Homo sapiens: one gene and its partners. The protein of the gene in region 3 interacts with the protein of the main gene of each other region in a pairwise test. Each region holds a gene or a part of one and is shown on either strand. Other genes may lie near its edges.

Evidence for each region.
Region 1: the proteins of GIMAP1 (region 3) and BLCAP interact in binary tests that used the Homo sapiens proteins (3 or more experiments, as listed by UniProt).
Region 2: the proteins of GIMAP1 (region 3) and HSD17B11 interact in binary tests that used the Homo sapiens proteins (3 or more experiments, as listed by UniProt).
Region 4: the proteins of GIMAP1 (region 3) and TMEM45B interact in binary tests that used the Homo sapiens proteins (3 or more experiments, as listed by UniProt).

The regions. Positions count from the first base shown.
Region 1 is NC_000020.11:37,517,871-37,524,902, forward strand, and holds part of BLCAP (apoptosis inducing factor BLCAP), read right to left. Parts: intron 6,584-7,032; exon of another isoform or gene 6,507-6,583; intron 5,821-6,506; exon of another isoform or gene 5,027-5,820; coding exon of another isoform or gene 4,797-5,026; intron 4,569-4,796; coding exon of another isoform or gene 4,488-4,568; intron 3,582-4,487; exon of another isoform or gene 3,534-3,581; coding exon of another isoform or gene 3,462-3,533; exon of another isoform or gene 3,380-3,461; intron 2,720-3,379; exon of another isoform or gene 2,568-2,719; intron 2,434-2,567; exon of another isoform or gene 2,366-2,433; intron 1,481-2,365; 5' UTR 1,305-1,480; coding exon 1,041-1,304; 3' UTR 1-1,040. Other genes in the region: NNAT (neuronatin), read left to right, coding at 3,462-3,533, 4,488-4,563, 4,797-5,026. UniProt on the Homo sapiens protein: Acts as a tumor suppressor; induces growth arrest at G(1)/S checkpoint and apoptosis via RB1-dependent and p53/TP53- and NF-kappa-B-independent mechanisms. Modulates expression of genes involved in the regulation of proliferation, cell cycle and apoptosis.
Region 2 is NC_000004.12:87,353,183-87,360,214, forward strand, and holds part of HSD17B11 (estradiol 17-beta-dehydrogenase 11 precursor), read right to left. Parts: intron 4,235-7,032; coding exon 4,097-4,234; intron 1-4,096. UniProt on the Homo sapiens protein: Can convert androstan-3-alpha,17-beta-diol (3-alpha-diol) to androsterone in vitro, suggesting that it may participate in androgen metabolism during steroidogenesis.
Region 3 is NC_000007.14:150,719,602-150,724,805, reverse strand, and holds the end of GIMAP1 (GTPase IMAP family member 1), read right to left. Parts: intron 4,759-5,204; coding exon 3,881-4,758; 3' UTR 522-3,880; downstream 1-521. Other genes in the region: GIMAP1-GIMAP5 protein, read right to left, coding at 4,400-4,758. UniProt on the Homo sapiens protein: May regulate lymphocyte survival. Required for normal levels of mature T-lymphocytes and mature B-cells.
Region 4 is NC_000011.10:129,853,845-129,860,532, reverse strand, and holds the end of TMEM45B (transmembrane protein 45B), read right to left. Parts: intron 5,924-6,688; coding exon 5,717-5,923; intron 4,826-5,716; coding exon 4,641-4,825; intron 3,221-4,640; coding exon 3,075-3,220; intron 1,960-3,074; coding exon 1,848-1,959; 3' UTR 530-1,847; downstream 1-529.

The DNA of each region.
Region 1 (7,032 bases), on a different chromosome or scaffold from region 3:
AATAAAAACTGTAGCGGCACCTACCATATATAGCTAGCTATTGCTAAACCTCAAAATCAGACCACGTTCGATAAAGCTTCTTTAAAAGGAATATACACATGTATTTGTACACACACACACACAGGGCACACCAAAAAATATCCAAACATCTATCAAGGGGATCAAGGCCGTTACGAAACACACAGGTACTCTCCCACTCACTCAGCTGGGGACTGCTAGAACTACGTGAACACACCATACTTCAATGCTGCAGAGCATGCACGGGAGACACAATGAGGCCCCCTCCTTGGGACAGTTGAGAAAGGCAGGAGGAAGGGCAAAGGAAGTGAGGCTGGGCGGGAAAGCTTGAGCCCAGACACCCAGGTGAAAGAGCAACATCTATCTGTTGCTTCCTTTCTTAAAAATGAAGTGGAGAAAATACTGAAGATTTGTGGACAACTAACAGTCAAGACATGTTTCTGTCTAGCCTGCTGAACAAGGAAAGAAGGATGAAAAAGCGAGGCTCTCGGGCGTCAGCAATCTCTTCAAATTCGAGATAAGTGCAAAAATGAGCCCTGTCTTGGACAGGTACTCCCCAAAAAAGGAAAAGGGTAGAAGAGAAATAAAGGGAAACCAGAAGAGGGACTGAGGAGTCAGTAACATTCTGGGAAGGAAGGAGACCCTGACAAGGAGGGGTCACAGAGGTGACAATGAGACTGGCATTTTATCTGCCCCAGGTCACATTGGGGCAGCTGACCAGGATGGACCCAGACTCCTCACAGTAATGAGGCGAGAGGGGTGGTCATGCGGCCAGCCAGGACCTAGATGGGGACAGAACACACACAACCACAAGACCACCCACGACTATAGGACTTTACAATAAAAGCACCGGTCAGTGCCATTATTCACATTGTAAGGATAAAACATCACAGGCCAAAAAGGCGCCGTCAGGAATGTGACACCCGCGAGGCTGCGGGATTTGAAACTCCAATGCTTTATGACCTATGTCAATGCCTCCCCTCCCGTCTTCTGCTTCCTTGGAAAGCTAACAGGGCAGGCCGTTAGGTGCCCACAACGCCGGGATCATGCGCCGATTCTGGAAGCGGGGAATCGGAGCAGTGGTACAGGAAACAGTTTCCCCAGCAGCTATAGCAGATAAGGAACAGGGCTGCCAGGAAAACCAAGGCACAAATTGTGCAAGGCTTCCGTTCCAGGAGGAAGCTGAGCAGGTAGAAGCCCATGAACATGGAGTGGCTGAACCACAGGGCGGGGTTGAGGGGCTTGGGGATGAGGAGGACGGGCAGCAGCCACTGGAGGCAATACATGATCTCTGCCGGGCAGGGCCTTCACCAAGGCTGCCGGGCACCGCTGCAGGAACCGACCTAATGGGAGCCAGCGGGCGCAGGCGGCTGCCCTCCGCTTTCTTCAACCCTCACTCTCCAGGAGCTGAGCCGCTGTGCTCTCTGGCTGTCAGCCCGGGATCACCAAGGCAGCAGGGATCCTGAAGAGAAAAGTCAACACAACAGACAAACAGACAAAGAACAGACAGACAGACAAAAAAAAAAAAAAAAAAAGAAAAAAAAAAAAAAAACAGGAACAGAATGTATACTTATTTGGGAAAATGGATCATGGTTAACAACAGCAAATGTGAAATGCCCTTTCCTCCCTGCCCACCCGTGAAAGTTCTACTCCTCTCCAAGTCACTAATTCGGGAAGCTTCCTGGGATGTCTCCCCGGGGCTTCTCCTGGGGGATCGGGGAGAGGGCTCTTTGGCACGGTTTCACACAGTGGGCTGGCTTTGCCTGGGCCCTGCCCAGCAGAGATCATGTATCGCCTCCTGGGGCTGCAGCCCGTCCTCAAGGGGCCCAGACCTCACAATACCGCCCAGTGGTTGCCAAAGGACGACCAAGGGCTCCCTGCTGTGCCCCCACGTGGTAAGGACAGGGTTCTGTATCTAGCATCTCTCACAGCCATAGGTGCTCAGGCACTAAGTGCAGAGTTAAAGCTGTTAGCGGGGCACTGCCGGCCACCAGACCACAGGCAAAGGATCCTGAGGCAGCTACAGCCTCGAAATATTTTAAGATGGCAGCCTAGGCTAAGCTTGCCTTTTTCAAACAGCCCAGCGTCACTTTGCCAGAATCTGCCAACTTCTCCGAAAGTCAATGTAGAAAAAAAGTCACTATGCTACTTTGTCCAAACTGAACTCGTTTGGATCATTACACCTCCATCTGCTGCTGGCACTGTATAGAACCTGACCTCTGGGAGCTTTTAATGAAAATTAATTTTCTATCCACATAGGGGCAAATGCCAGTTGGTCCCTGGGCCAGGCAGCTTGCTGGAAAGAGGTGCTTTCGGCTGGCTACCGGTGCGCGGGGACCACACTCACAAACCGCATTCCGGTCTTCCCGCCCGAAAATCCGCGCTGTGCGAGGGACCCACAAGACTGGCGGTCTAAAAGGGACCCGCCTCACTTGGAAACGGGGCTGCGGTAGCCACAACCCTCCGGTAGCGGTAGCGTAACCCCGTTCGGTGATCCAGCCGCACAGCGCAACGGGTACAAAGAACCCCACTGGCTAAGGCCGACCTACCAGGGCTTGGGGGAGGGGAGCGGAAGACTGAGGTCGAAACGACCTGTCCAGCAGAAAACTATCCCCAAGCATATTCCAACCACTTCTCCGTAGAGCTCATTCCTTCCGTGCATACGAAGGGCGCCAATCCTTCCTGTATCCCTCCTACAGATACCGGGTGACTACTGCTTTTGCGCCCAAAGCGCAGTGCTCTGGCTCAGCTCCCTACAGTAGCGACCTCCACCGCAGATTCTCATCTCCTCGCTACCGTAAGAGAGATGTAAAGAATCAGACGGGTTACGCGCTCAGGCACCCTCATGAAGCAGAGGACCTGGGCTTAAAACTCATTCAGTATCAGGAAAAGAGCGCCGAGCACGGGCCTATTATGCCAAAGCTTCTGAAAGGGGCACCACGTTTTTTGCTCTATGGGGCAGATGACCCCTCCCTAATTTCGGTTTTCCATCCATCCCCAAGGTAGGCTTTGGAGTGGCACCGGAGACTGAGCTCAAATTTGCAGGCCAGGGACTGGGGAGAAGGGCGCCACACTAAGAGACCTGCACCCCCATTCTCGCCCTGTACTCTACCCAGAGTCGTGGTACCCCTCCATTTTAAAGCAAAATCCAAAAGCAAGCACGGCGGAATCTTCTGGAAGGGGGCTAAGATGGAACTCAGGAGGCGGGGGTCGGTATGGAAAGAGCAGATGGATTATTTTTTTCCTCTCCTGGCGAATGAGGAGCGCCCCCAGCCACCCCTCCTCATAAACACCCCCCAAGGCGCGCATGCGCACTTAGGTGGCGGGCGGGTACTTAAGGCGCGGCCACCGCGGCTGCGGCAGTGCGCCCAACAGCGGACTCCGAGACCAGCGGATCTCGGCAAACCCTCTTTCTCGACCACCCACCTACCATTCTTGGAACCATGGCGGCAGTGGCGGCGGCCTCGGCTGAACTGCTCATCATCGGCTGGTACATCTTCCGCGTGCTGCTGCAGGTAAGTCTGACGGGGTTTCGGGTGGGAGAGGGTTCCCAACTCGCGCCCCTAGAACCCGCAAGACTGCGTCGCGATTGCCGCTTCCCGGACCCGTCCTATTCCGATTGCCGCGATCCTTGCCTGCCCAAGTGCCGCTGCCGGCACCGCGCGCCCCCTGCCCATTCCCTGCGCCGTCCTCCTCGCGCTGACCCTCCCTAGTGCGCCCGCGCCTGCCAGGGAACAAAGACTCGGGGCGCGGCGGGCGACCGCTGCGGACGATCACCCAGGCATTTAGCGACCTACGCGGTAAGAAAAACCCGCTACACCCGGACTCGACCCCAGGAGGGAGGCGGGGCACTACTGTGTTGAAAGACTTTACAGCTCGCAGAGTGAAAATTTTCCACCTTAAAAAATTGCGCATTGCGGAGAAATTTTATTTAAAAAAACATATAGCGCTTGCGGGGGTGGAACAAAAAATAAGTTAGAAAAAGGCACTTCTCAGAAAAAATAAAAATTACTTCGCAAAAAAAAAAAACCCTACAACGAATTAGAGAAAAAGTAGTTCACAGGAAAACAGAAAAACGCGCATTGCAGGAAAAATAAATCGGAGAAAAGCACTTGGCAGAAAAAAATGCATTAGATTAAAAACGCACTGCAGAAAAAAATTAGACAAGGGAGCTAACGGAAAAAAATGGATCGGGCAAAAACGCTTTAAAGAAAAAAATTAGAGGAAAAAGCCCCTCGAGAGAAAAATAGAAGGGGAAAAAAAGCACTTCCAAAAAAGGACAATTGCTTTACAAAAAAAAAAATAATAATAAAAAAAATAAAAAAGAGGCAAAAGCGCTTGGTGTAAAAAGAGATAAATCAGAAGAAAGCGCTTTGCCCATAAAATCATTTACCCTAAAAGCTCCCTTTGCAGGAAGAATTCCCTGCTAAAGGAATCCTTTGCCAAAGGAATCGCATATTTCCTTCAAGGTGTTCCTGGAATGCTGCATTTACTGGGTAGGATTCGCTTTTCGAAATCCTCCAGGGACACAGCCCATTGCGAGAAGTGAGGTATACCTAAGTTGTGGGTCCAATCAGCTTGCCGCCATGCAGCTCTCAGCACAGTTGGAAAAGCTCCAGCTGCCCTGACTCGTGGACAAGCTGCGCCCGCGCCCGCCTCTCCAGCCTACGCTGGATGGGCGGGCGGGGCAGGGGGTGGGGCGGGGGTGGGCACGGCAGCACCACAGACATGCTGTGGGTGCTCTCCACTAAGGGTGGGTCCTGGGTTTCTCGTCGCAGGTGTTCAGGTACTCCCTGCAGAAGCTGGCATACACGGTGTCGCGGACCGGGCGGCAGGTGTTGGGGGAGCGCAGGCAGCGAGCCCCCAACTGAGGCCCCAGCTCCCAGCCCTGGGCGGCCGTATCATCAGGTGCTCCTGTGCATCTCGGCCAGCACGGGAGCCAGTGCCGCGCAGGAATGTGGGGTCCCCTGTGTTCCCTCGCCAGAGGAGCACTTGGCAAGGTCAGTGAGGGGCCAGTAGACCCCCGGAGAAGCAGTACCGACAATGACGAAGATACCAGATCCCTTCCCAACCCCTTTGCACCGGTCCCACTAAGGGGCAGGGTCGAGAGAGGAGGGGGGATAGGGGGAGCAGACCCCTGAGATCTGGGCATAGGCACCGCATTCTGATCTGGACAAAGTCGGGACAGCACCATCCCAGCCCCGAAGCCAGGGCCATGCCAGCAGGCCCCACCATGGAAATCAAAACACCGCACCAGCCAGCAGAATGGACATTCTGACATCGCCAGCCGACGCCCTGAATCTTGGTGCAGCACCAACCGCGTGCCTGTGTGGCGGGACTGGAGGGCACAGTTGAGGAAGGAGGGTGGTTAAGAAATACAGTGGGGCCCTCTCGCTGTCCCTTGCCCAGGGCACTTGCATTCCAGCCTCGCTGCATTTGCTCTCTCGATTCCCCTTTCCTCCTCACTGCCTCCCAAGCCCACCCTACTCCAAAATAATGTGTCACTTGATTTGGAACTATTCAAGCAGTAAAAGTAAATGAATCCCACCTTTACTAAAACACTTTCTCTGAACCCCCCTTGCCCCTCACTGATCTTGCTTTTCCCTGGTCTCATGCAGTTGTGGTCAATATTGTGGTAATCGCTAATTGTACTGATTGTTTAAGTGTGCATTAGTTGTGTCTCCCCAGCTAGATTGTAAGCTCCTGGAGGACAGGGACCACCTCTACAAAAAATAAAAAAAGTACCTCCCCTGTCTCGCACAGTGTCCCAGGACCCTGCGGTGCAGTAGAGGCGCACCAAAACTTTGTCTCTTGTGATTTCTTTAGCGGCATCAACATACACTTCTAAGACTCAGCTGATGTGCCCACTGTGGAACAGGCACACTGCTTGGGGGAGGGAGGAAAAGGAGGGCCATCAAAATTGCAATAAGCTGGGCCCCTCACACACCCAACCCCATCTCAATGCTGTCCTGTGATAAAGGACCATCTCCCCCTCTCCCCAAAGAGAAAGGCTGACATCTTCACTTGTGGTCCTGGAATAAGGGACCACTTCCCCCTCCCCAAAGGGATAGGTGCTTTACTTGTGGTCTTAGGATAAGGGGCCAAAGCAAGTATCACTTTGGGAAAGATGAGAGGAGGGGAAAAAGGTGGGAGTAGCCCTCCAAAGAGGTACTAGGGACCAAGGGGGTGATTTCAGAACACAAAGCCTTACTTCAGGTCTCCATCCAGGAGCCCCAAAGAAATGAGTAGTGGGCAGGGTGGACAGTGGCTTAGACAATGAGTATGGGATAAGAGGTGCAGCGTGGCGCCTTCTTCACCCAGCTTAATGCTGCAGGCCCCACATCCACCAGGACCACTACAAAGACAATCTGCCTGGCCTTGCTACTCTGCAGGGTCTCCTGGCCCCACCTCACCCCAGAAACCTCTCTCCCCAATACTGGGTTTCTGCTTTTCCCAGCACCAGCCTCCGTATTCTTAGGAATGCTTACCAGGTCCGTGGCCCTGGGCTCTCCCCTGCCATCACGTCAGGGTGGGCAGTGCTCGGCCTCGGACTTGTCTTCCTCTCCCACTCCCCAGTGAGTCAGGGCTCTTTCTACACGGGGTCAGCTGACTGTCTCACCAAATGGCCCTGCCGCCTGTTCAGCCTTGTCTCTGGCTTTATGTGTCCCTGTCACTACACACCTGTTGCTGGGTCAACACCAAGGGAGGGAGTTGGAGGGCCATAAATCTCTCTTCCTGCCACTTCTTCGAATCCCTTAGTCACAGCTGTCACAAATACTTCTGAAGCACAAAGTACCTTGCCCCCTTAAGCCTGATCATGTTTCCCTCCCCTAAGCAAGCCCTTAAGTTTCTTAGCCCAATCACCAGCACCTCTAAAGGCATCTAAAACTTCATTCGGTATCAGAGAATTATAGGGGTGGGGAGGTGCAGATCCCGGTTCTGGTCTTGACTTTGCCATCAATCAGCCTAGGGAACCTGGACATGTCACCTTGTACCCTTCATCTCCAGTTTCCC
Region 2 (7,032 bases), on a different chromosome or scaffold from region 3:
GCATCCTCGGGCACACATATTTTCACTTTTGGATAATTATCTCCCTCAGGTAGATTCATAAAGGGGGATTACTGGGCCAAAGGGTATATAACTTGTAATTTAATTTCTCTAAACCTCAGATCTCTCTCATCTACTGAAGAGGGACTAATAACATCTCCCCAAAAGTATTGTTGTGAGGTTTAAGAAAATGACATTTTATTTGGTGTCTGAAATGTAAACAGGTATTTAACGAGGAACATGTTCTCTCTTCTAATTAGAAGTAATAAGTTTCTATATTAAAACCAACTTCATCTTTGGGGTCTACTTTAGTACCAGCTTAGCCTCAAAGAGGTTCATATGTCAGGACCAATCTTTAGGCCCTTCCTTAGCCAGGTTTATATTCAGCCTAGAATCATCTTAGCCTCTTTTCACACTTTTCCTCCAGAGTGCAAATCAGTGCAGCATTTCTGGAGAGGAGTTTGGCAATATGTAGGAATTAATGGCACTAGTAAGTTTTGTCAGGAGAGGGCGCTGGAGCCCACGTTAAGGTCAGCTCTGTGCGGCCTTGTAGGGGGGGCAAGGTTAAAAAATTCAATTATAACTTTTGAAAATAGGATGTCTGTTTTTAACTACTGAAAGACAGTATGACTTTAAAACTTGACTCAAATATGTTATTTTAGTATCCACATACTGAAAAAGAAATTGAGGAAACTGGCAAGTTTTATCTTCAACATCTGCTTTCAGTTTTAGTGAAGCTTATCCTCACTACTTTCATTCCTCAGATCCATTTCCCAACCTGAAAAACATATCTGTCCCTTCTCTTCTCTCTTCAGACTCCAATTAGGGTTCTCTTGTTTAATACTGATAAATTTAAACATTGACCTCTAAAATATACACTCTTACTTTTGTTTTCTAACAAAAATTGTGTATTAAAAATAGATTTTAAAGACTGTTTGATAGATTCTTGGGGGCTTGAGATCTTTGGACAGCTCCCAAATTTCTGTCTAACGTTGGCTTTCTGTTCTGCTTCCCTGTGGGATGACTTAAATTAAGTGTGTTTAAAATAGAACCTGGCGGCCGTGGATCAGCTGTCAAGAGTTCGAGACCAGCCTGACCAATATGATGAAACTCCGTCTCCACTAAAAAAATAATAATAATAATAAAATAGAACTGTTAGGCCAGGCATGGTGACTCATGCCTGTAATCCCAGCACTTTGAGAGGCTGAAGTTGGGAGAATGACTTGAGCCCAGGAGTTCAATTGAGTTCAAGGAGCCCTTGAGCCCAGCCTGTGCAACATAGGGAGACCCTGTCTCTACAAAAAATTTAGAAATTAGCCAGGTGTGGGGACACATGCCTGTATGGTCCCAGGGACTGGGGAGGCTGATGTGGGAGAATAGGTTGAGCCCAGGAGGTCAAGGCTGCAGCGAGCTGTGATTGTGCCACTGCATCCAGCCTGGGTGACAGAGCGAATCCTTGTCTCAAAAAAAATAAAAAAAATAAAAAAAGGAAAAAAATTAGAATCTTCAATTTTACCTTCAAATTAACCCTTCAAGTGGCCACACTGAATATTTTTCATTAATTTTAAATACATTTTCAACAAAGGCAGCTGAATTGGGGGAAATATGGGGAAGTTTGAGGGGGCAGAATAAAACTTAAAAATTGAATCTTGGCTGGATGCAATGACTCATGCTTATAATCTTGGCACTTTGGGAGGTGAGGTGGAGGTGGGAGAATTGCTCAAGGCCAATTTGAGACCAGCCTGGGCAAACAGCAAAATCCTGGCTCTCAAAAAAAAAAAAAAAAAAAAAAATTAGCTGGGCATGATGGCACACACACTGTAGTCCTACTCAGGAGGCTGAGGTGGAGGGTTGCTTGAGCCCAGTTCAAGGTTACAGTGAGCCATGATCACACCACTGCACTTCAGCCTAAATGAGACCCTGTCTGAAAAACAAAACAAAACCAAGCAAAATTGAATCTCATCATTACAATAAAATTGAGAATCCAAAAGTCTATCCAAGTAAGCATGTGAACTTATAATATGAATTTAATATCAGTGAGGAAAATGATGTATTATTTAATAAATAGTGCAGAAAACTCATTAACTATTTGGAAAAAACTATACTGTGACCTTACTTCTTAAATCAAAATAAATTTGGGTGGGGCAATGATTTAAATATGAAAAATGCAACCATAAAATATATGCTAGAAAAAATATGGGTAAATATTTTCAAAAACTTGGAATGAGAAAGACCTTTCTAAACACCTCACAGAACCTAAAGTCCATGAGAAAAAAATCCCTAAGAAAATTTTAATGTAAAACTAAATGAAAATAGGCTTAAAAGCAAACAAAAAACAACTGGGGAAAAAAAAAACATATGCAACAGATGTGATATATAAAGGGGTTTCTCAAATGTATGAAGAATTGTTTCTTATGTATTAATTAAAAATCTCTAGAGCTCAGCTGGGCATGGTGGCTCATGCCTGTAATCCCAGCACTTTGGGAGGCCAAGGTGGGCGGATCACTTGAGGCCTGGAGTTTGAGAACAGCCTGGCCAACGTGGCGAAACCCCATCTCTATTAAAAATACGGAAATTAGTTGGGCGTGGTCGTGCGTGCCTGTAATCTCAGATACTCGGGAGGCTGAGGCACAAGAGTCGCTTGAACCTGGGAGGTGGAGGTTGCAGTGAGCCGAGATTGCGCCACTGCACTCCAGCCTGGGCAACAGAGTGAAACCCTGTCTCAAAAAAAACAAAAAACAAACAAAGAAACAAACAAAAACAACTCTAGAGCTCAATAGCAAAAAGTGAGCTGATGCCATGAAAATAGGCAATTCATAAAAGGAAGTGCAATGTCCAAAAATCATATGCGAACATGAATGTAGCTAGTCATCAGGGTAAAAACAAAGATGATTCTTCGCGTACTGGATTGGCGGTGATTAAAAGAGTCACAGAAGGCAGACTGATGAAGAAGTAGAGAGTAAGTTGCTCTCCCTGCACTGTGGGTAGGAGTGCAAATCAGTGGAGCATTTCTGGAGAGGAGTTTGGCAATATGTAGGAATTTTTACAAGTTATATACCCTTTGGCCCAGTAATCCCCCTTTATGAATCTACCTGAGGGAGATAATTATCCAAAAGTGAAAATATGTGTGCCCGAGGATGCTTATTGCTGATTTGCTGTTAAAAATCCAGAACACTAAAAACAACCCTAAAATCATCACTAGGAGATGCTATTGCTCCCAATAATCAATACAATTTATTATAATGCTCTGTACTTTATTAGATGTCTGTAACATAATGCTGAGGGAAGTATGCAGTATACTTGCTGCTTCCAGGACCCCATGTGTAACATACGCCAGTTATAGAAAATTCAGAGAAGTCTAGAAGGATGTTTATCAAAATTTTGAGAGTGGTTTCCACTCAATAGAGGGTTTTAAGGAAATTAAAAAAGAAACTTTTCGATTTGTATTTTTCATTAACATTGGAATTTAAACAAATAAGTATGCATCATGTTTACAAAGACATTAAAGCTATTTCTAAAGAGAGAAAACATTAAAAATTATCTTCAAATTAATCCTTTATAATTTTATTTTTTAACCAAGTAAAGAGTATGATCTGGTACTCCTTTCGGAGGCTAATCTCTAGATTACCTCCAAGGGAAGTGTTTTTCACATGTGGTCTTGGGTTATCTCTATCAGAATCACCTATGATAATCACCTTTTTTAAATGTAGAGTTCCAGGCTCCCTTCCCTGCCACTACCCTACCCCAACCAAACCCAGTAAGTCAACATATCTGAGGGTGAAGCCCCAACATAGTTCCCAAGCACACCTGGTGACATGTATGCATATTTAAGCCTGTGAATCATTACTCAGGAGAAGAAAAAAGGAAGAGTTAGCAAGTTTACCAATGTCATTCATATTTACTTTTTTAGTCACGCTCCCTTGCTTTCTCTCTTTTTGGCTTTCCACCTGTTTTCCCACAATCTGCAGAAACTGAAATCAAAATGAACTAAGAGCTTTAACTATCAGGTGTTTTCAGGATTAAAACATTTAGGAAAACCCACAGAATGGCTGGTATTCATAGCAACCACCAATCCTTTTGTCTCAATTTCTCAACTTACCTTGTACTTGGATTTTTGATGAAGCCAGTGTTTACGAAATTAGGACACAGACATGTTGTTTTGACTCCAGTTATTTGTAAGGCAGCCAGTTCATCTGTCAAAGTTTTATGAAATCCAACAGCAGCAAACTTGCTTGAACTGAAAATAGAGAGTTTACAAAATAATTCAAGAATTCTGAAATGTCTGCCTGTTTTCCTCAGTTCAGCATGGTCCTCTGCAGAGCAATGTGGGCATTCCCTGAGTCTCAGGCCCCAGCCCAGAGCTACTGCATCAGAGCCCACATCTTACAAGATTCTCAGGTAAATCTGTAGGCACATTAAGGTCCAAGAAGCCCTGACATAGAAGATTTACTGCATCTTAGCATCACTTACGGAATAAGAACATTTCCTTAAAAAGCCTTTTAAAGAAAATTAGTAGAGTATTTGTTTTTGTTGTTGTTCCACAAAATTCAGTGTCACTATAAGCTGTTCCTTATTTACTTTAAGATGTCCATAGAATTTGCTGAAAACTTTTCCTGGATAAATCCTATTCTTCCTTTAAGTCACAGCTTCACTTCCTCAAAGAGGCCTTTCCTAACCCCCAGTCTAAATTATTTTCTCATTATATAGTAATTTTCAGTTTTCTATGATAGTATCTATCTCAGATTTGTAACTGAACATTCATTAGAGAAATTTTTTTTTTTTTTTTTTTTTTTTTTTTTTGAGACAGAGTCTTGCTCTGTCACCCAGGCTGGAGTGCGGTGGTGCGATCTCGGCTCACTGCAAGCTCCGCCTCCCGGGTTCCCGCCATTCTCCTGCCTCAGCCTCCGCAGTAGCTGGGACTACAGGCGCCCGCCACCATGCTCGGCTAATTTTTTGTATTTTTAGTAGAGACGGGTTTTCACCATGTTAGCCAGGATGGTCTCGATTTCCTGACCTCGTGATCTGCCCACCTCGGCCTCCCAAAGTGCTGGCATTACAGGCGTGAGCCACCACGCCCAGCTGAGATTAAATTTTTTAAAACATCTGTTTCCCACACCTTTCCTATAAGCTCCATGACTGTTTTGGTCACCAGTGAATCTCCAGGGCCCAGCACAGTGCTTGGCTCTTAGGTGCTCAATGAATATTTGTCAAATGAATGAATCACAATGCAAAGCGTTTATTTTAACAGCTCTTTCATTTGGAAGTAGTAGTGAAATTACTTATTCTAAATGGACATTACTTTCTCAGGTTTTTTTAATTTAAAAAGGGCTTTATTGAGATATAAATTCATATGTCACACAAAGCATTCACTTAATGTACACAATTAAATGGTTTTTGATATATAATTAACTTAAAAGTTGTGGTATAATATATATCATGTAAAACATGTCATTTTAACCATTTTTAAGTGTGCAATTCAGTGGCAATAATTATCAGATAATCTTTTATTCTGTTAAATCTGTATGAATTAGCAATTACACAAAGTAGCTATACATTCTGGCCAGTTAATCTATGCTTTGGAAGACAGAAAGCTGTGGAAATTTTTTAAAAAATTTTAAAAAAAATTTCTTACCTTTTTAAAAAAAGTTTAGGCACTTATTGAAGCTGATATGGTTTGGCTGTGTCCCCACCCAAATCTCATCAACAATTGTAATCCGAATTGTAATCCCCACATGTTGAGGGAGGGCACTGGTGGGAGGTGACTGGATCGTGGGGGCAGTTTTCCCCATGCTGTTCTCGTGATAGTGGGGGAGTTCTCACAAGATCTGATGGTTTTTTAGGTGTTTGGCAGTTCGTCTCTTGCTCTTACTCTCTCTCGCTGTCTCTCTCCTGCTGCCATTTAAGACATGCCTGCTTCCCCTTCCTCTGTAATTGTAAGTTTCCTGAGGCCTCCCCAGCCACGCAGAACTGTGAGTCAATTGAACCTCTTTCCTTTATAAATTGGCCAGTCTTGGGCAGTTATTTATAGCAGGGTGAGAGGGGACTAATACAGAAGGCTTAAAAGAAAGATTGTTAGATTAAATTATATGAGATTAAAAGCTTCTGTATACTGAAAAACAACATAAATAAAAATCAGATCTAAAATAGATTACTAAGTGCTAGACATTGCCCTCAGTTATTCTGATGCATTTTGGAGTTTTTTGGGGAGTCTTTATCTGTCACTTAGGCTGGAGTGCAGTGATGCAATCATAGCTCACTTCAACCTAGGAACTTCTGTGCTCAAGCAATCCTATCACCTCAGCCTCCCAAGTAGCTGGGACTACAGGCATGTGCCACAACACTTGAATAATTATTTTACTTTATTGTAGAGATGTGGGTCTCGCTACGTTGCATAGGCTGGTTTCAAACTCCTGGGGTTAAGTCATACTTTTGCCTCAGTCTCTCACGGCGCTGGGATTATAAGTGTGAGCCACAGTACCTGGCCTATTCTAAATAATTATTTTGTTTAATCTTCATAATACCCCTATAAAATATATTAAGATCCTCATTTACCAAAGAGGAAACTGAGGTAAAGATGGGTTATCAAACTTGCCTGAAGATACAAAACAAAGTGGCAGAATCAGGTTTTACGTGTGGGTAGTAAACCAGGTTTATATATGATATATTCTAAACTTTATTAACTCCAAGCAAATTAAGAGGCAAGTGACAAACTGGTAAAGCATTTGCAACATATAAGACAAGGATAAGGTTAATATATGGCAACTTTTATAAAGGAATAAGACAATACTCTAATAGATAAATGGCTAAAGGGCATTCATGGAAAAATCATAATATAAAAATGCCAGTAGATGTAGGCATATAAAAATGATTTACTTTAGGAATAATTCATATAAAAGCAAAGTAAAACAAGACGGAATTCTTGCCTAGCAGTAATTATAAGGACAGAAATTTTCATCTGAGTTTTTTTCAATGTACAGATATTTCACCTCATATAATTGAATCTAGCAATCTTTTCTTTTTAAGGCTTCATTCAAT
Region 3 (5,204 bases):
TGCCTACTGGAGACAAATTTTGATAATTCAGGCTTAAAACCTGGAGTTGATCCTTCTGCAGAACTGGAAGTCAGAAAGTCTTTCTTTCCTTTTTATTTCTTGAGATTGAGATGTCTATCCTTGGTGTGTGTGTGTGTGTGTGTGTGCGCGCGCGCACGTTTGCATGCATGCAAGTGTGTGTGTTTAATTTTTGAGCAGTGGTATGCAATTCTCTTCAGTGTTCATCATGATACATTCTGCTAGCATGTAGTAGAAAAGATAGTCTAGGAGTCTTCAGACGTATGAAGTCAAGAGGATATGCACAATATAACACCATTTTGAAAGTAAAAAAAGTCCAAGTGCCTAAACTTAGTGGTATGTAAAGAGAATTATGAGGAGGGAAAGAAAATATAAAAATATGAGAAGAATTAGGCAAAGAATGTGATTGAAAGTATAAAAATAAGACTCAAACCAATAATTATAACTAAACATCCAGTATATGGAGTGATAACTTCTTAAAGAAATAAAGAGGAGGGGACAAATTTGTAAGCATCTCAATAAAGTATTTTATTGGCAGAATAAGCAAGAACCGAATCTAGTTGCCTAAGAAGAGGCCAACATTGCCACTGTTAGATTAAGAATCATGGGGGAAAAATGAGTGTTGAGCCATAGTCTAGCTATAGCTTCCCCAAGAATTTACAGAAATTCTCTTCTGGGGTACTGAATCCATAGGTGAATCTCTGGAAGGAGCACTGGCATTTGCTAGGGCTACTGTGCGGGCTGGAACTGAATATTGATTGTGTAAGAATATGTAAGAATGTACTCTGCCTGAAATCTTTTGCTCTAAAAGTTCATCATGGCCAACACTAGCTTTCAGAAATAAGCCAGATACAAGTCTTTTTGTGTAGAACAAAAGCTGATCCAGGTACCAGGGCATAGAAATATGAACAGAAACATTATCAGCACAGGACCCATACATTTTTATCTTCCAAGAGATAAAAGGAGAGGAGAGGAAGGGGGACAATTGAAATGGATATATATTTACACAATTTTTGAGGTATTGGACAGTATTTTTACTGTGTCTGGTTAAAATTAGCAAGCAAGTTTTTCCAACAGGAGGCAGTGCTGTTTTATGCTGTAATTTAAGTATAAAATTGATTTGTGCTATCAAATCACTCAAATTACATAAGTGAGGTCACAAGGCCTAACCTTGAGCTATGGGGGAAAAAGCAACCTTTAAGCCACAGCCTAAAAAAAGACTTTACCGAAGGGAATGGTGAATGCCAACTGTTCTGTAGCAGGAGAAAAGGATAAAATAAGCTGAAAGGGGTGGAAATACAGTAATTTGGGGGACCCTGTGCTTGAAGGGAAGTAAATTTCCTTAGGGCAGGAGAATATCATTAATACAATGACATGCTTGCGCGAAAGAATTTTCTGTTATCTATGGTAGAAAATTTAGAAAATGGTCAAAAGTCTGGTAGCTAGAAATCTAATATTAAAAAGGTACAGGAAAGTCAACTTTACAATTCATTTTCCAAACATTTGTTGATCCCACTTTCTATGCCAGGCACTGGGTTGTATAACGGGGATACAAAGATGAAAAAAAAAAGATCATAATCAAAGTATCTGAAAAAGAAAACCACTAAAGAAATGTTATTGAATGTAAAGGAAAACTGTAACTTCTTTAATAATACATTATTCAAATTCAAAGATGATAGCACATTTTGAGATTCAGATTGGTAATGTATCTTTGATTACACTTTGCAAATGTATTTGACAATTAACCATATACTACTACTTTTTATTACTGAGGTAGGAGGCAGGACTAGACTCTGGAGGTGGGGATTGGGCTCCAGACCACACTGAAGACAAGCTGAAAGGGAAGAGGTGAAAGAGTCTCTCCATAAAACACACTCACCAGTGCCACGTCAGGTTACCATTGCTAAGGCAACAGCTGGAAGTTTTGGCTCCTTTCCATAGCAACAATCCCACGACCTGGAAGTTACGACCTTTTTTCTAGAAATTTTGGCATAATCCACCCCTAAATTTGCATATAGTTGAAAGTGGGTATAAATGTGATTGCAGTACTGCTTCCGAGCTGCTACTCTGGGCACACTGCCTATTGGGAGCCCTGCTCCACAAAGCAGCTTTGTTGCTGCTGTACATTAAACCACTTTGATAAAAGTTGTTGTCTAACACCAGCAGCAGCACTGGCTCGTGCGCAAGTGACCGTGGACGACCACGCTGTGCCCTCCCTGCTGTCCCCTCTGGTCATCAAAGGATCCTTCCCTGGCTCGAGGCCCCTGCCTGGGCCCAGAAAGGCTGCTGAGGAAGCGAAAGGCAGGAATTAAACATGGGTTTTTCTTGAGCCACGCTTCAAAAAGTCCAACTCCCTGCAGCGGTCACCAAGGCCCTCAGGACCCCTCACCATAGCCTGCCCGAAGCCCGCAACCCACCTGGAACCTCCTGCAGTCCTTAGCCTGAGCTGGCAATTGTGCGCATGCTTGCAGACCCCTTCTTCCCAACGTGTGCTGGGGAAGACCCTAGGGCGCCTGCGCACACTCCCTCCTCCTCTTCCTCTTGAATAGAGCTAATGTGAATACCTGCTTCCCATGTCTCCATGACCTCACTAGAGGCTGGCTGATTTAAAGACAATGAGTTCCCTTAAAGGGTTCTCATTATGCTCAGAAATAGAAATAAGGAAATCCTATTGTTTGATTCGCACAACCAGTCAGCGGCAAATTTTCTAATCACGTGGCATTCGAGAACCTTCCTGGACAGGCCCATCCCGAAAAAACCGGATGCTTTCGCCTCACAGCATAGGATGCTCAGGTGTCTGCAGTCTCAGCCTATGCACCTGGTGCTCTGCCTCTTCTCCATAACCAGAGAGGAGCTCGAGATACAGACTGTGTGTGTGTGTGTGTGTGTGTGTGTGTGTGATAAAAATATGAATAACCATATAGAAGATATTATATGTTATTTTCCCAATATCCTACTCTTTTTCTTTTTCTTTTCTTTTCTTTTTTTTTTTTTGAGACAGATTCTTGCTTTGTCACCCAGCCTGGAGTGCAGTGGCACGATCTCGGCTCACTGCATCAAGTGATTCTCCCGCCTCAGCCTCCTGAATGGCTGGGATTACAGGCGAGTGCTATCACGCCTGGCTAATTTTTGTATTTTTAGTAGAGATGGGGTTTCGCCATGTTGGTCAGGCTGGTCTCGAACTCCTGACCTCAGGTGATCCACCTGCCTCGACCTCCCAAAGTGTTGGGATTACAGGCGTGAGCCACCTCGCCCGGCCCTTACTTCATTTTGGAATGCCATGAACCATAATATGTTCTAGAAAAGTGGAAACTGTTATTTTCCACTTTGTAACAGTACAGTTACATTCATCTTTTTGGTAGTAAATCATTGTACTATAAACTGATGTCTCAGAAGTAACATTCACGTGTGTAACCCCCACATTTCTTTTATTGATGCTAAAAGTCTACAAGGATCACAAAGGAACCTATCTACCCATGTATAAGAACTAGAAAATTATCAAGGAGGGGCAGTCTAAATTTTTTAAAAAGCTCGAAAATAATGGCACTTGTTTTCCCTGTGCCATGCGTTTGTCCCCACTACAAGCTACTTGACATTAGACTACCAAAACTACCAAAGGAAGTTATTGTTAGACGAATTTATTTTAAAACTCTGCATACACATCATTTAAAATGAGTTAAAAACTTAAAAAGTGAACTCTGAGCTTTGGCAAAGTTGCAAAGGTGATGCAGCAAAGTTTTCTGTGTCATTAAAACTATGCCTGAAACTACAGGATTCCTTCCGTTGGAATGAAGTTTTCCCTTCAGCTCCAAGAATTCAGCCTCCCTTAACCAAGTTGCCTTCAGTTTTAGGACCTGCGCTGTCAGTCAGGCCCGACCTCCGCAACGGCCTCCGACCACCGCCTGTGGAGCAGCACCCAGAACAGGAGCGCGCCCCCCAGCAGCAGGGCCAGGCCCAGCCTCCAGCTCCTGGGGGACTTCAGCCACTTCCACAGCCGGGCCGACAGCCAGGCGCCCCATGGCCTCCTCTGCACCCTGGCTGCCACGCGCTCCGCCACCCGCCGGAGCCGCTCCTCAGGGCCTGCCCAGCGCAGCACCTGCGCCAGCTCATACACCTCGTTGGAGTAATGGGCGCCCTTGTGCTCCAGCACCAAGCCCTCGACCATCCCCAGCAGCTGCTCCACCTGGGCTTCCTGCTCCCGGCCGGTGGCCCGGTTATCAAAGGCACAGACCCGGCCCCCGCACTCGGCCACCAGCTCGCGCAAGGCCCGGTTCTCTGTGTTGCTCACGTAATCGTGCAGGGAGCCCCCGGCCAGGTCCTCCTTCCTGGTGAAGACGATGACCATCCATTTTAGGACGTCCTCCCCGAACATGTCCCTCACCTGCCTCACCGCCTGCTGGTCCTGGGCGGTGAACCGACCCAACTGGGTCACCAGGAGCAGCGCGTGGGGTCCGGGGGCCGAGAGCAGGTAGCAGTGACCTCTCTCCTCACAGCCAGGATCTGTCTTGGACACTTGGGAGCTGAAAATGTCCGGAGTGTCCACGACTTCCACGTGGCACTTGTCCCACCTGCGGCTGCCCGTGGTGCAGGCCCTGGTCACAGACGTGGCCCCCAGCCTGGAGAAGAACCGTCTCTGGCCCAGGATGCTGTTCCCAGTGGCGCTCTTCCCGGCCCCTGTTCTCCCAACAAGGATGAGCCTCCGCGTGGACTCCTGCCGGGACTGAGCGTTCTCTTCTAAACCTGTGAGACCAAGTGTTATAATCTTACTTAAGTTTAACCAACTTCCCCTTGGGAACTGGAATCTTCTTGCCTTTAGCATAAGTGGTTAAGAATAGAGATTTGAACGCCTGGGCGTTCATTTCCACCTTTTCCTTTTGTATTTGGGTTGTCTGCCTGCACCAGTAGATGCTCCAACTACAGTTGATTATCATAGAAATGCTTCTTTATCAGTCCAGCCCAATAGTTCATCTGACATTTCTGGTCATCCACACACATGCAGACATATTTATTTCATATTTGAAAATTTCGATGGACTCTGAAATATTCTCCCAGAGACCATCCCCAGAGACAGGCAGTGGGGGCAATACTGCCTGGTAGTGAAGAGCTGTGTGGAGTCCCAGATACCCTGGTTTGAATCACAGCCCCACCACGTGCTGGTTGTGTAACCTTGGGGAAGCTGCATAATC
Region 4 (6,688 bases), on a different chromosome or scaffold from region 3:
CGGCTCACTGTGCAACCTCCGCCTACTGGGTTCAAGTGATTCTCCTGCCTCAGCCTCCCAAGTAGCTGGGACTACAGGTGCTCACCACCACACCAAGCTAATTTTTATATTTTTAGTAGAGACAGGGTTTCACCATGTTGGCCAGGATGGTCTCGATCTCTTGACCTCATGATCCACCCGCCTCGGCCTCCAAAAGTGCTGGGATTACAGGCGTGAGCCACCGCGCCCTGCTAGGCCAGCCAGCTTTTCTGAAAGACCTCATGCTCTTACACATTACAAGCGGTTGTGAGAATCAAATGAGATAGGGTGCATCTCAGAATCTGAAAAATACTATGCACACGGAAAGTATTATTTGGTCTCTAAGGCCCATCAACTTGGTCCTAACTCACTTTTATCAGTTTGTAGAACTTAATCTTTTTAAGTTCTCCGTATTTTTTTATGCTTTCATTTTTTAATGTGCTACCCTCTCTACCTGGGATGTGCTTTTTCTACAGGGCAAGCTCTGCATTTCCCCTCCTCTCCTTTTTCTCATCGTGGTTTGTACTTGCCTCTCAGCACCCATCACACTGGATGTAACTACAGGCATGTCTCTCCTGTTTGACTGTAAACTCCTTGCTGGACACATATCTCAGGAGTCCTTACAGCCATTTCAGTGCTGTTGCAAAGTGGATATTTAATAAATATTTGTTGAAGGAAGTCTGTTTGCTTGTTTTTGAGACAGAGTCTTGCTCTGTCACCTAGGCTGGAGTACAGTGGCATGATCTGGGCTCACTGCAAGCTCCCCTACCGGGTTCATGCCATTCTCTTGCCTCAGCCTCCCGAGTAGCTGGAACTACAGGCGCCCGCCACCACACCCGGCTAATTTTTTGTATTTTCAGTAGAGACGGGGTTTCACCATGTTAGCCAGGATGGTCTTGATCTCCTGACCCCGTGATCTGCCTGCCTCGGCCTCCCAAAGTGCTAGGATTATAGGCGCGGTGAAGGAAGTTTTTTTAAAAAAAGAACAGATCCAGAAGCAAGATTAGGGTATCAAGATTTTACATTACTAATTCTGAATTCGTTATCCTTTGCTTTCAGCCATATTAAAACTGAAAGCCTTCCATACCTGACGTTTTTCTATCTCATTATACAGCTTTCCTGTCAGATCTTCTTTTAGGGTGACTTTGAAGAATCAGAACATCAGGGCTCCAACTCTCAGTAGAGCCAGTAACCAGCTTCCTGATTTAAAAAAAAATCACCTTTGGCCTAATTTTGTCACTTATAAACAGTGGTATTGCAGTACCCTGGTATGATTAGTTATGATATGTTTAACAATAATTTTAAAATACCAAAGCTTGTGAATTATTTTACTTTCAAAAAATATGTAAGTTAGAATTGTAATTCTAAAGGCACTGTCGTTTGCTTACACATTCTAACATATTTCTAATAAGAAAGTACCTGCTTTCTTAAGAGAAAAAGGGATAAGTTACCAAAAGCAGCACGTTCTCCTGGGCTCATACCCCGGATTCATCCATGAGGCCACTTCCATTGTAAAGCTTTTAGCATCTCTTGATTTCTCTTGACACTGAGGCACAAAGGCCTGCTACTTATAGGCATTACTTCATTTTTCCTTATGAAGGGTACTATACCAACACAGACTTTATAGTATGTTTAAAAATCCCAACTGCAAGATACACAGGATGCTGTAGGCCTGATTTCCTGTTGTAGAACCTCCAGCCCTGTGTTGAATGAGGAGGTGCAAATATATAGACCCTTAAGATCAGACCACAGCAGGCATTCAGGTGGAGGGGATGAACTCCATTCATTCCAGCTGTGCAGTGGGACATCTGCGCCCTCCGCATCTCGGCTCATTCCTCATCTGAGCCACTCAAGAGGGCGGTCTGGTAAGTGTCATCTGAATTCAGCTTCTGAATTCCAATGATTTCTCCCCTTCCGTGTCTCTTCATCCGAGTCAAAAGGCTTTAATAGAGAAAGAGTAAGAGCCAATTAGCCAGAGATTCCCTTAATCCATTACCAAGGATGTGAAGGCATCTACTGATTCTTAAACTATTTTCTTTATATTTCTATCAAATACTGTGATTACATGTCTATAAACTAGACTTCTTAGGAAATATTCATCAGTAGATAAAGGGGCGATGGTGGAAACTACTGAATGTCATAATTGAGGCCAAGGTCTTGCCTATCTTGGTTTACTGTTTCAGTGGCTGGGCAGGAGAACTAAAAGAAACTGACTTGAGCTCCCTTCTCTTTGGTCCGTGTGGAACTCTTTCTGGATGAAATAATGGCAAAAATCACCGTTACTTTTGCACCAACCTAATATTCTGCTTGGGATCTAGAGAAATGACCTAGAAGAAAAGGTAGAGGCAGCCGAACAGCAAATAGAACTGGTAATACCATTTGCTAAAATTCACCCTTGCACTGAGAGGCTCTGCCATTTATTAGTGGGGTGACCTTGGTCAAGTTACTCAGCTTTTTGAAGCCTTGTTTTCTCCACCTGTAAAAAATAACAGTGCATACTTCATAAAGCAGTGAAGATTAAATGGGATAATAGAGTGTAGCTGCTTTCCACTGGGCCTGGGGCGCAGCAAGTGCATAGGAGTCCATAGCTGTTATCTGTATACCTCTAAGGAGCCTTCAGTGAGGGGTGGAGTGCAGTTTGTCTTAACATTCTGCTCTGGTTTATTTTTTGACTGTCACATCATTTCTGGGAAGCAGGGAGGGCAGGTCTGGAAATAAGATGATGGGTCCAGAATGAACCCTTTACGTGGGGACTGCCATCCAGTACTGATTCCCATTTCAGTATTCCCCACCACACCATAGGCTTAAAATCTGTGAGACCTGCATTTGAAACCTGGGTCCCTCAGGTTACTATGACTTTGAAAAGCCCTCAGGTCATTAAACTTTGAAAAGCCTCATTCCCCTTGTTTGCAAATAAGGGTAGTGATACCTTCCCTGCATGAGAGTACCTTGCACAGAATTTGGCCTGTAGTCGGCACTCATCAGATGGTGCAAGTTAATCACATCAGTCCTGCTTAGAGTTAGGAGGAAAAGCTTCACTGAAGTCTCAGACATACCAGTAAACAAGAGAATAGTTGACGGCCACAATGCTGAGGGCAGCCAGGTAGTGCCAGCAGAAGCACATGGTGATGAACATGAGGTTGGCATCATCCTTCTGGTCCCATTCGGGTGTTCCAAAAGGTGGGAACAGCACAAACCCAATCTAGGGGATTACAGAGAGAAGTTGGTCTTGTGGTTGGTCGTCCTGAGAAGCAATCTAGCCGTTCTCCTGTGGCCACCGAAGTGGCCCATGTGTGACCACCGCCTCATAGTTCCCACACTTCGTTAGCATAGAAAGGCCTTTTCACATAGAAAAATGGCTCTGGCCAGGTATGGTGGCTTACGTCTGTAATACCAGCACTTCGGGAGGCTGAGGCAGGCGGTTTACAAGGTTAGGAGTTCAAGACCAGCCTGACCAACATAGTGAAACCCTGTTTCTACTAAAAATACAAAAAATGAGCTGGGCATGGTGGTGGGCACCTATAATCCTAGCTAACTGGGAGGCTGAGGCAGGAGAATTGCTTGAACCTGGGAGGCGGAGGTTGCAGTGAGCCGAGATCATGACACTGCACACCAGCCCGGGCCACAGTGCGAGACTGTCTTAAAAAAAAAAAAAAAGCCGGGCGCGGTGGCTCATGCCTGTAATCCTAGCACTTTGGGAGGCTGAGGTGGGTGGATAATGAGGTCAGGAGATTGAAACCATCCTGGCTAACACGGTGAAACCCCATCTCTACTAAAAATACAAAAAATTAGCCAGGCGTGGTGGCGGGCGCCTGTAGTCCCAGCTACTTGGGAGGTTGAGGCAGGAGAATGGCGTGAACCTGGGAGGTGGAGCTTGCAGTGAGCCAAGATTGCGCCACTGCACTCCAGCCTGGGCGACAAAGCGAGACTCTGTCTCAGAAAAAAAAAAAAAAAAAAAAGGCTTCAGCTTAATTTTGGTTGTATAGGCTTACTTAAAAACACAAGTCCAGGTGCAGTGGCTCACGCCTATAATCCCAGCTCTTTGGGAGGCTGAGGCAGGCGGATCACTCGAGTTCAGGAGTTCGAGACCAGCCTGGCCAACATGGTGAAACCCTGTCTCTAAAAATACAAAAAAATTAGCCAGGTGTGGTGGCGGGCACCTGTAACCTGAGCTACTCAGGAGGCTGAGGCATGAGAATCGCTTGAACCTGGGAGATGGAGGTTGCAGTCAGCCAAGATTGCGCCACTGCATTCTAGCCTGGGTGACAGGGTGAGTCTCTCTCAAAACAAACAACAAAACAGAACTTCAGGGCCCACGTTTCCAGTGGACAGTTTAGCAAGCAGAGCCTGTGAAAGGCATCAGCCCATCCTCTGGGGAGGGCAGCTGAACGTCACCGTGCATGCTTTAAATTTTGGATTGCTAATGCATCCTCTGGATGTTAATGGATAAAACTAGGAGTCAAAGGGCGGGCATGGGGGGAAAAGGGTCATCTAAACCCCTTTGCATGGCATGTTAATGCTGCATTTTCAGACCCCATATTCTCGTCAGGGATTTCTCTGGGATGCGCTCGGTGGGGGCTTCTCCATCCAGACCAGCGAGGGGCCTGGGTGTGGAAAATCACCTGCCAGAACCAGGTTCCCTGAAGAATGATGAGACTGGTTCGGAAAAGTTCCAGCACAATGTGGTCCCGGAAGATCACCTCTAGGGAGATACTAACACACCCTCCGAACAGAGCATACAGCAGGAGTGAGTGGATGTGCTGGTCCAGCGGAGGCCGGTTGTGGACGTGGTAGTAGAAGAGGAAACCTGCCACAAACCAGATGGCAGCTGTCAGGGCTACGCTTGGCTTTCACCATCACCGAAGTTTCCTCCTACACCTGTCTCAGCTAGGTTCTTCAGCATTTAGGCAGTTAGTACATAACATTACAGGCAGCAAACAGATGCGAGTAAGTGTATTTCATGAGTATGTTAGGAGTATAAAGCAGCAAGGGATTGTATCTTAAAATCTCTATGGAACCCATGGTGGGGTCAGTATAGGATGGGCCGGCTGAAGCATGTTGCTGATTTGTAACAGACTGTGTGTGTATACTTGAAATTCAGTTTTGCCCTCAACCTTTTTCGACTCTTGCTGAGGTACAGAAGTGAGGTTGTTAGATGACAAAATGTATTTTCATACCCCAGTCAGTGTGAGTCATACTGGCAGCGCTCCCCTGGCAGTGGAGTGGGTCTCCTGAGGCTTGTGATGGAGGCAAGACGGTACCTCCCTGGGCAAAAGGTAGAGTGTGGTTTCGCTTAACCAAAGGGGTGTATCCCCTGCATGGTGGCATTCAACCAGCTGGGGCATTGTGTGTACCCGCATGTGTATGTGCGCACATACGTCCACACCGAGGAATATGCACGTGTGTGAGCAGGGGCTGCTGGCGGCAGTGGGAAGGCGAGGAGGACTCCTGCAGTGTTAGCCGGGGCTTTGGTAGCTGCCTTCAAGCCTCAAAGCTTTCATGAGCTACTTTAGGGAATATGTCACCTGGCCCATCCAGAGTAGAGCACTAGGTCCTATTCAGGTTTTGGCAGTCCAGAGATGTGGATTTTCTGGGGGAGGTTATTATATTTGCAACATTTCTGATATTTTGTACTCTGATCCTTCATAAATATGACTTGTCAGGCTCTCCTTCCTCTCCATCCGTTCCACAAAATTACCTTCCATGAATACTGCCACAGCCATAACCAGTCTGTCCACCCCCAAGGGAACGTGGCTGACCAGATAGGTGAGCATGTCAACAATTCCTGAGACTGCAAAGAATAGGTACATGGTGCTGTGCTGCCAATTCATTAACTTTATCCAGTGGTTCTCATGGTAGAGGTGCAGGTGGGGCCCATCCGGAACAAACTGCTCTGCCAGGATCCCTGCAGGGAAATGAGGATGGATGTTTTAGAGGGAAGAGTAGCTCTAAGACAAATAGGAGCAAGGAATAACCCAAAGGCATGAGCGAAGCGGAGATGGGGTGAGGTGAGGGTGGCCCGCGGGTCAGCAGAGCTACTTTGCTGCCTCAGGTGCAGCTGCTTCAGTATAAAGTAGGGTGTGTGCTGAGTCACCTGTGTAGACATCTTGCCATTGTTGTTCCTTTTAGGGGTTTGGGGTTGAGGGTAGAAGAATCAATGAACACAACCACACACACATAGATCCCCAGGAGGTTTGTCCAGGAGCAGAGATGAGCAAGACATCATCACTTAAGTCGGAGTGTGGCTGATAGAATAATCTCTGGGCTTCCCTGCCAAGTGAGCAGTGAAAGAAATCCCAGACAGAAACAATTAGGCTGAAAGCAGAATCTGAGCAGAGACACACTGGTAATGAAGATACCTGTACGTGCCAAGGGAGGGAAGCGGCTCCCAGGTGCGTGTCTGCAGGGCTGATTTTGAGTGCGTGTCCTTCCTGGGCACAGAGCCAGCTCTGCAAGCCCTGCGCCCCTCCCAGCTGTGTGTTTTAAAACACCGGGTAAACAAGGCAGAGGCCCCAGGATGTGGGCCAGAAAATGACGAAACTGCGACACAGGATAGCTCTTAGTTCTTATCCCTTCTACTTTTATCAGCTAATTTGGAAGGCAAAAGATTTGTCTTTATGCCTGGTACCCAAAGTGTTCTTGGGGAAGCCTAGAAGAAATCCTCCATGAT